Linked DNA regions of Homo sapiens: region 2 is reported to be linked to region 1. The links are microRNA targets in miRTarBase. Many come from high-throughput screens and were not tested one by one. Region 1 holds a microRNA gene; the other region holds the end of a gene's coding sequence.
What was found. The annotated mature microRNA hsa-miR-4295 reads CAGUGCAAUGUUUUCCUU and lies in region 1 at 3,227-3,244, shown strand. An mRNA with a match to its seed (bases 2 to 7 or 8) in the 3' UTR can be bound and repressed. Matches are read on the target gene's strand: a 7mer-m8 pairs with bases 2 to 8, a 7mer-A1 pairs with bases 2 to 7 and ends in A, and an 8mer does both.

Region 2: miRTarBase lists PRPF4 as a target of hsa-miR-4295. Seed matches in the 3' UTR shown: 7mer-m8 at 1,154-1,160.

The regions. Positions count from the first base shown.
Region 1 is chr10:112,630,954-112,635,352 of GRCh38, forward strand. MIR4295 (microRNA 4295) reads left to right here and starts at 3,217; the gene lies at 3,217-3,301. The region is part of intron 5 of VTI1A (vesicle transport through interaction with t-SNAREs 1A); the gene reads left to right. LOC124902503 (a long non-coding RNA gene) reads left to right here. Exons shown (of 2, transcript XR_007062292.1): 2 at 520-4,399.
Region 2 is chr9:113,291,022-113,295,420 of GRCh38, forward strand. PRPF4 (pre-mRNA splicing tri-snRNP complex factor PRPF4) reads left to right here. Exons shown (of 14, transcript NM_001244926.2): 14 at 446-1,884. The coding sequence ends at 639. Among named protein-coding and RNA genes, the nearest start is that of RNF183, 10 kb to the right of the region's middle.

The DNA.
Region 1 (4,399 bases):
TCTACTAAAAATACAAAAATTAGCCAGGCATGGTGGCATGCACCTGTAATCCCAGCTACCTGGGAGGCTGAGACAGGAGAATCGCTTGAACCCGGGAGCCGGGAGGTGGAGGTTGCAGTGAGCCGAGATCGCGCCATTGCACTCCAGCCTGGGCAACAAGAGCGAAACTCTGTCTCAAAAAAAAAAAGCAGTATGAAAACATGACACTGCTATGCTACTCTCAACTACACTGGGGAGCTCAAGCTGATAAGAGCGTAGTATAGAGTAAAGAATATTAATTTTTAAACCTTATTTATTTATTTTAATGAGGTACAATTCACGTAATAGAAAATTAACCATTTTAAAATGTACACATCAGTGACATTTAGTACTCTTACAGTGTTGTACTACCACCACCTCTATCTAGTTCTAAAACATTTTTGTCACCCCAGAAAGAAACCCCATCCTCGTTAGGCAGTTGCTCCCCTTTTGTGCTCCACCTAACCCCTAGTAACACCAGTCTTCTTCCTGTCTCTATAGATTCATCTATTCTGGATATTCCAAACAAATGGAATCCTACAACATGTGACCTTTTGTGTCTGGTTTTGTTCACTCAGCATAATGTTTTTGAGGTCCATTTACATTGCAGCCTAGGTCAGTACTTCATTCCTTTTTATGGTTGGGAATATTGATTTTAAGTTCTAGGCCTAGCTCTGCTATTAACTCCCTGAAAGCCTGACGCAAACCTCTGAGCCTTATTTTGCTCGTCTGTAAAGGTGAGGGCTGTGTAGCCTATGGCATGTGAGTTCCGCAGGAAGCTCTGGAACAAAAGGTCTTCAGTTCAAGTAAGTGTGAGGAACAGTGCATACTGTGTCTTGTTTGTCGTGACTCATAATGCTCCATGTACTAAAGATTTGCACTCTTTAGCCCAGGATTGCTCAATCTGGGACCAGAGAACCCTTTTATTTCGCCTATTTTTGTTTACATCTTATAGAACATAATCCAGGATTCTAAGACACTGTAATCTATGAATCACTTATTGATGAAATTCCACAATATGGTAATTATAACAATATAATTGTAATTGTAATTGTAAAAATATACAACTTGGCCAGCCATGGTTATGTTGATCTTTTCTCCAAGTTAGTGTCCATCAGTTGGGGTAGTATTCTTCCCTAGGGGACATTTTGAACCTTTGTTGGGGCATTTTGGTTATCTCAGTGATAACTCAAGGGTAATAAACATCCTGGAATGTATTGCGTAGTCTTTTACAACACTCCCTGATCCTGCACAAACTCTCAAATGTCCTGCTGGTCATTTGTGAAGGTGCACACCCTATTTATAATTATCTGAACGTAGTTTTCCATATGAACACAAAGTATTTTTGTGTGGCTTGAACGTATGTGGAGTTTTCCAAGTATACAATAATTGTGTAAAATCAGGGTTTATTTTAAAAGAGTTCTTTACCATTGAAGGATAGACAGGATTATGCTACAGTAACAAATTAACCTAGAAATTCTGGTGGTTTAACACAACAAAGGTTTCTTTTTTATTTATGCTAAAAGTTGATCAAGCATTGACAGAGGGCTCTGCCCCACTTACTCAAGCATCCAGACTCCACCATGGGGATCGTTGCCAGCCACTGCGGGCAGGGATAGACGGGATTCACATACCAGCTCATCAATATTTTGACCCAAAGTTGAGGTACATCACTTCTGACTATAGTGTACCGGCCAGAAATAGTCATATAGTCCTACCTAACCATAAGGGGGTTAGGGAAGAGGAACAGGTGGAAAGTTGGGTGAGTACAGTGTTCATGGTAATGCGACTTGTAGTATTTGAGCTGTCATTACAGTGCTTGTGGATTGGTTTGCATATGTAGTGTCACATGCATGTTGATTGTACATGCATGTGACAGTTGTATAGGCACAAGCATGTACTTACTTAGTTGTATCTATTAGTATAGTAATGCCTGGGTATTTACAAATAGAAATACTTCTTATTTTGTTGTAAGTTATTTTCCTGTATTTATATTACAGCTAGGGCATTATATTGATTTCTTTTTTAAAAATCCTGTGTGAAATATTTGTTACAAAAAGGTGGTCTGGGCTGGGCGTGGTGGCTCATGCCAGTAATCCCAGCACTTTGGGAGGCTGAGGCGGGCAGATCACGAGGTCAGGAGTTTGAGAGCAGCCTGACCAACATGGTGAGTCCTGAGAGGAGAGGTCTGAAGGAGAGGAGAGGTCTGATGGTGATGAAAGCCACTTTTCTAGGTCTTCGGCATCATCTGGAACACATAGTGGGTCATAGAGAATTACGGGACTTACATAATAATAGTAAGAAGAAGATTAGCTCACATCCTTTGAGTACTCCGCATGTGCCAGGCACTGTGCTAAAACCCTGTAGGTTGATTCTCTGCTTTAAGCATCACCAGAAGCCTGTGAGGAAACCTCCGAATTCTCCATCTTACAGGAGAGAGCTGCTTTTTTCCTTCAAGTATAATGGAAAAGTTGTGGTCCCCAGAATTTCTGTCCTCCCTATGCTAGCACGAAGGGATAATTGATCTTCAGACATTGAAAAGAGATAGCAGGCAAAACACCGGGGCTGGAACAACACAGCAGGATACCCAGGGATCCCAAAAGGAAGTCAAAGAAGAGATTGGAGAAAAGCAGTGGTGAGGAAAAGGGCATTGCCCCCAAAAAGTAATGTCTCCCATGCAGAGAAGACTAGCATTACATAAATGTGTCACTGAGAGAGTTACCTTACCCTGACTCTGTCACCAAATTTTATTAAATGCCTCTCCTATTTCATCCTTGTTGGTGAACTTCCCAGTTCTTCTCTTATTTTATGGGCATAAGAGCTTATACTTTGCAGTTTAGTTAGTTAATTTATTTAAATAGCATTATCAAGTTGGCTCTAGACTAAAAAAAAAAAAAAGTCATGACTCACTCCAGAAAATACCATCAGTTAACAAACGGAAAAAAGGAAAAAGGATCACAGTTAACTCAGAATTATAAAACAATGGTTCTTTTAGGCTTCCTATTTTAGTGGTGTATCCAAACACCTTTTTCCCAGAGTAATAGAGCTTTCTTCCCTTTTGGTTGCAAGCATTATATGAGCAAGATTGGCCACTTTAAAAGTTTTGTTGCATCTTTACTTTCATTACTCAACCTTTATTTCTCCTCAGTCTTTATTCCATAAGAAATATGCTTCAATGGCTTATGCATTTAGAATTGACTTTGTGGAACAGTGCAATGTTTTCCTTGCCTGTGGCAAGACCACTTCGGTTCAAGGCTAAGAAACTAGACTGTTCCTACAGAGACCCTCTGGGTGACTCATCTCTTTTGAGATCCTGATTGTCCATTTTTTGGTTGGTGTTCTGGCAGCAGTGTGTGTTGCCCTGAAGGCACCCTCTCATATGGTGTTGACTACACTATGCTGTGCTATTTAATTCTTGTTTTGGATTGTGCCTCGAGTTTTAAGTCACTTGACAATACAGAAGGTTTCTTTCTCCAAAGATTATCAATATCATACCATTGCCTCTCGGTGGTTATACACACACACACAGACACACACACACATACACACACACACACACACACACACACACACACACGAATTTCATGTTTTCTTCCTTTTGAAACTAAATGTGATCTGTCTGACCTTTCTGAGGAGTCTGCTGCTTTTTCAGATTTATGTCCCTGTGACAAGGTGGTTTGGCAAGCTGTTTGTCTTAATCACTCAGCATCTCCATTAGACAAGCTGTTTAAAAATCTTCTACGTAATTATCTTTTTTGACTCTCACTCTTCCACATTCTTTTCTTTATTGTAAACTTTCTTATGACTTTTTTATATATCTGCCATGTTCTAAAAGGCATTTAAGCCTTCTTACACTGTTTTGTCTGCTTTTCATTAAGTTTGCCATCAATTTACAATCCATGCCCATTGCCTCCTTCACAATCTGAATACATAAACATGCATAATAAATAAACTCTGGGGTTGAATCCTGGACTGAGTGGCCAACATTTTTTCTGTGTCTTCCTTAACTGTTAAAATAGGCAGACAGAGGAGCATTAGAGGAGCTAATTCTAGGAGTCTCCTACGGACATTTGCCGGAGTTTTCACTGCCTTGTTGTTGCCTGTAACTGCAAAGTTCAGAAAGCTGGGGCTGGAGGTGCCTTTATTCATAATATGAGCCAGGCACTGTGCTCATTATTTGGGGGGAATAAAAGATAACACATTTCCTGCCTTCAAGCAGCTTTTACTCTGGTAAAGAGGATAATGCAGGCATGTAAATCTTGTGGAGATGAGACAGCGTGCTGAGGAATTTAAGGAGAAAGATCCCTTTGGTAAAGGCAGATGCAGAATTCATGGCAGATGTAGTGTTTTAGCAGAACCGTGAGCAGTCAGCAGGATTGTA
Region 2 (4,399 bases), not on the chromosome of region 1:
CTTTCCTCCTATTTTACGTCTAAATGACACAGACAAACAGTATTGTGTTCCCGTGGAATGCAGGCCAGGCTTTAGCTTAACTGAGCAGTAAAACAGGAGAGAAATTGACCTACTGGTAAAGGAGCAAATTATAATTTCCTTCCCTCTGCCATACCCTTAGATCTGTGGGAAAGCACGCTTCTCGTTGCAGGAAGTAAAGCAGACTTTCATGAGTGCTTTGCTTCATTCTTTCCTCCATGGATGCTCTGAGCACTGAGTCCTTAATATTATTCTGAATAGATTCTCGGTCAGGGAATGAGCCAAAAGACCTTACTGTTATTTGTTCCCTTAAGTCTGTAGAAACAAGTTTTTTTAAAAATAGTATGTTTTTGCAGACTTTTGTGCTTTTGTCTTCTCTTTTGAATACTTGAATTCCTCAAGCAATTCCCCTTCTCTTCTCCTGTAGCTATCCATGGGAACTTCTTGCTTACTGGTGCCTATGATAACACAGCCAAGATCTGGACGCACCCAGGCTGGTCCCCGCTGAAGACTCTGGCTGGCCACGAAGGCAAAGTGATGGGCCTAGATATTTCTTCCGATGGGCAGCTCATAGCCACTTGCTCATATGACAGGACCTTCAAGCTGTGGATGGCTGAATAGATGACAATGGGAAAAGGACTTGAACCTCAAGCTCTCTCTAAGGAGCTGTTTTCCTCAAACGAGAAGAATTGAAGTGTTTAGTTCTATCATGTTTTCTGCCAATTACCATGCATAGACCCTCAGTAGAATTGGATTTCCATGTCAGCCCCCACTCCAGGAAGGCAGCCCAATCCCTAGGTGATGGGGAACCCCTCTCACGGTTGAAAATTTATTACCTTTTTACGCCCTGCCACGAACTGTGTAGACATTGTTTTTATTAATCTTTTGTTTGGCCGGGCGTGGTGGCTCACGCCTGTAATCCTAGCACTTTGGGAGGCCGAGGTGGGTAGATCGCTTGAGCTCAGGAGTTCAAGACGAGCCTGGGCAACATGGCAAATGCCGTCTCTGCAAAAAAATACTAAAATTAGCTGGTCGCGGTGGCTTCTGCCTGTGATTCCGGCTACTTGGGAGGCTGAGGTGGGAGGGATTGCTTAAGCCTGGGAGGCAGAGGTTGCAGTGAGCCGAGATTGCGCCATTGCACTCTAGCCTGTGTGACAGAGCAAGACCCTGTCTCAAAAAAAAAAAAAATTTGTTCGAATGCCTTATAGCCTTCCTCACAGCACCCAGGATTGTGACTGACTCTGCATTTTTAATTCTTGAAACTTGGCTTTCCATAACATGGTACATGCTTCAGGACTACATATGACCCAGAGAGCAAGGTGGCTGAACTATAGTCTGGAAGCCCTCAGGTAAAGAGGCACATCTCACCACTCATTGGTTAAACAATGCATCATAGCGAGCACTTTTCCTTTCCCTGGAGAATGGGATGTGAAGCAGTAGACCGCAGCCACGCCGATGGTTATACAGTGAAGAAGACTTCACCTCTTCCTATTGAGTTTGCTTGGAATGCTGACAGCATCAGGCAACTCTGAACTGAACATTTGCTTTGTCAGAAAATATCTTTTTTTTTACTTTGAAGTTTGGCAACCTTCATGTTACCCCAAAGCAAAACCATTGTGTCAGGAGTCAAACAAATGTTTAGAAAGCAAACATGACGTCTCTATTGTACAACCTCCTTTCTCTTGGCTGTTTAAAGGATGTACTTCGTGTATTAAAGGGTACTTTATGTTGAAGTAACGAAAAAACCCTAATGGGTGTTCCTAAACCTAAACCTTTTCTTTATTCCACATTTGCTACGGTAAAATCCTGTTACAAAACTACCCTATAAAGAATTATTTTCTATAGTTAAGCATTTTCTGAATCCTAGCCATTGGTCCATAGAGGTCTCTTTTTTTTGGTTTGGGATATAATGGATGATCTCAAATATGGATTACTCTGATTTATGTCTCCTTAGCACCTTGTTAACAATTTTTTTTAAAATAGAAGGCTGTTTGCATTTTGGGCCAGACTGCCAGTAAGCCAGGCCTGGACTCAATTACAATTCTTAACTTGTCTGTCATGCACCTCTTTTCACCTCAACTATACAGCCTCTGAACTCTCAAATTACACAGTAAATTCAAAAAAATATATAGGAATTTGGAAGAAGAAAAGGTTGTCTACAGAGGAGAGTTATTAAAGAAAGGCTTCTTGGCCGGGCACGGTGGCTCACGTATGTAATCGCTTGAACCTGGGAGGCGGAGGTTGCAGTGAGCCAAGATCACACCGTTGTACTACAGCCTGGGCAACAGAGCAAGACTCCATCTCAAAAAAACTTAATTTGCTGTTGCAGAGAGGTTGACAATGGCTTTGGTCAGCTCTATTCTGTGGACCCTGAATGTGTGATATATAGCCAAACAACTGGTTTGTTTTGTTTCATTTTGAGACAGGGTCTCGCTTTGTCGCCGAGATTGGAGTGCAGTAGTGCGAACACAGCTCACCACAGCCTTGACTTCCTGTGCTCAAATGATTCTCCTGCCTCATCCCCTCATCCTGTGTAACTGGGATCACAGGAGGATGCCACCATGCCTAGCTAATTTTTTTGATTTTTTGGTAGAGACACGATTTCACTTTGTTGCCCAGGCCGGTCTCAAATTTCTGGGCTCATGCAATCCTGCCTTGGCCTCCCAAAATGCTGGGATTACAGGCATGAGTCACTGTGCCTGACCTAAACATACTGTTTTTAATCTGATTTCAATTATAACCAAATAGTTGCATTTCCTATGTAGTTGTTCAGCTTCTGAATTCTCAGGACTACCCTCTGTTGCTCACTTCACTATTGTTCAGGTATTAATGAATTCTATTTCATAGATTATGATGAAAAGAACTTTTTTTCTTCTTTGTAGTATGTGTAAAATAATGAAGAACACTGGTGAATTAGCATGCAATTGGATATAATGTGCTAACAAAGATTTTTAGTTTCTCAGGTTTAAATTTTGCTATTAGTTCCCTTCGACTTGTTTTTCTTTGTTTTTTGGTTGGTCCAAGAGGTAGCAGTTGGGTGAAAACATTTCATCCAAGCCTTTGACAGAACAAATACCTTGTGGGCTATTTCTTCACAGGAATTAAAACATCATTGTAAGAAAGTGGTTAAGAAGCACAAAGCCAGGTGTGGCATTTGTGAAAATGGCAAGATAAACAGCCACCGTTTCACAGAACACTTAGTCCCTACCTAGATGGTATACCAGGCACATTCAGATACCTTGTTTAATCCCCACAATCTTTTGAGTTTATTATTCCCTTTTTATGGACAAAACAGGCTCCAAAAACACTTGCTCAAGTTTAGCCAGCTAGCAAGTGATGGAGCTTGAATTTGAACTGTCATCTGACCATTGATGACCTTATGAAGGTTTCACAGGTTCCCCACACTGGCCAGACAAAAGGACCGGTACAGCCAGCATGGCCTGTTTCCTGTACGAAGTCTGAGCTTTTTAAGGACTCTCCACTTTGTATAATGCCCCCCACCCTTTTTTTTTTTTTTTTTTTTAAGAGATGGGATCTCAGCCGGGCGCAGTGGCTCACGCCTGTAATCCCAACACTTTGGTCAGGAGTTTGAGACCAGCCTGGCCAACATGGTGAAACCCCATCTCTACTAAATATACCAGAAATTAGTTGGGCGTAGTGGCAGGCACCTGTAATCCTAGCTACTCGGGAGGCTGAGACAGGAGAATCGCTTGAACCCGGGAGGGGGAGGTTGCACTTAGCCGGGATCGTGCCGTTGCACTCCAGCCTGGGTGACAAGAGTGAAACTCCATCTCAAAAAAAGATGAGATGAACTCCTAGGTTCAAATGATCATCCTGCTTCAGCCTCCTGAGTAACTGAGATACAGGCACGGGCCACCGTGCCCAGCTTGTATACTGCACTTTTGACAAGTCACTTCCATCTCTGAGCTCATGCCCATGTTAAAGTAACTCTCGCACATCCTGAACGGATGAGGAGCCTATTGTCAACAAGATAGCTATTTGCATTTTTGGTTAGATGATCTTTCATCCTGTGGAACTGGCAACATAAGCATTGCAGCAGGTGTTAGTATCCCAGACCTCTGAGCCCTAAATGTCAGCAGTGCAATTCACCCCCTCCACTGACTACAAAAGATGCTCCCATGCATTTCCAGATACATTCGAAGAGGATGGGACTGCCCCAAGCTAGAGCTACCGAATATGAAAACAGGAGACACCATGATGTTCAGGCAGCCCTCCCTCTCCATCAGCGGGTTCTAGGATTCAACCAACCATAGGTCGAAAATACACTACTGACCATATACAGACTTTTTTTCTTGTTATTATCCCCTACACAATACAGTATAGCAACTTCACATCGCATTTATATTGTATTAGGTATTGT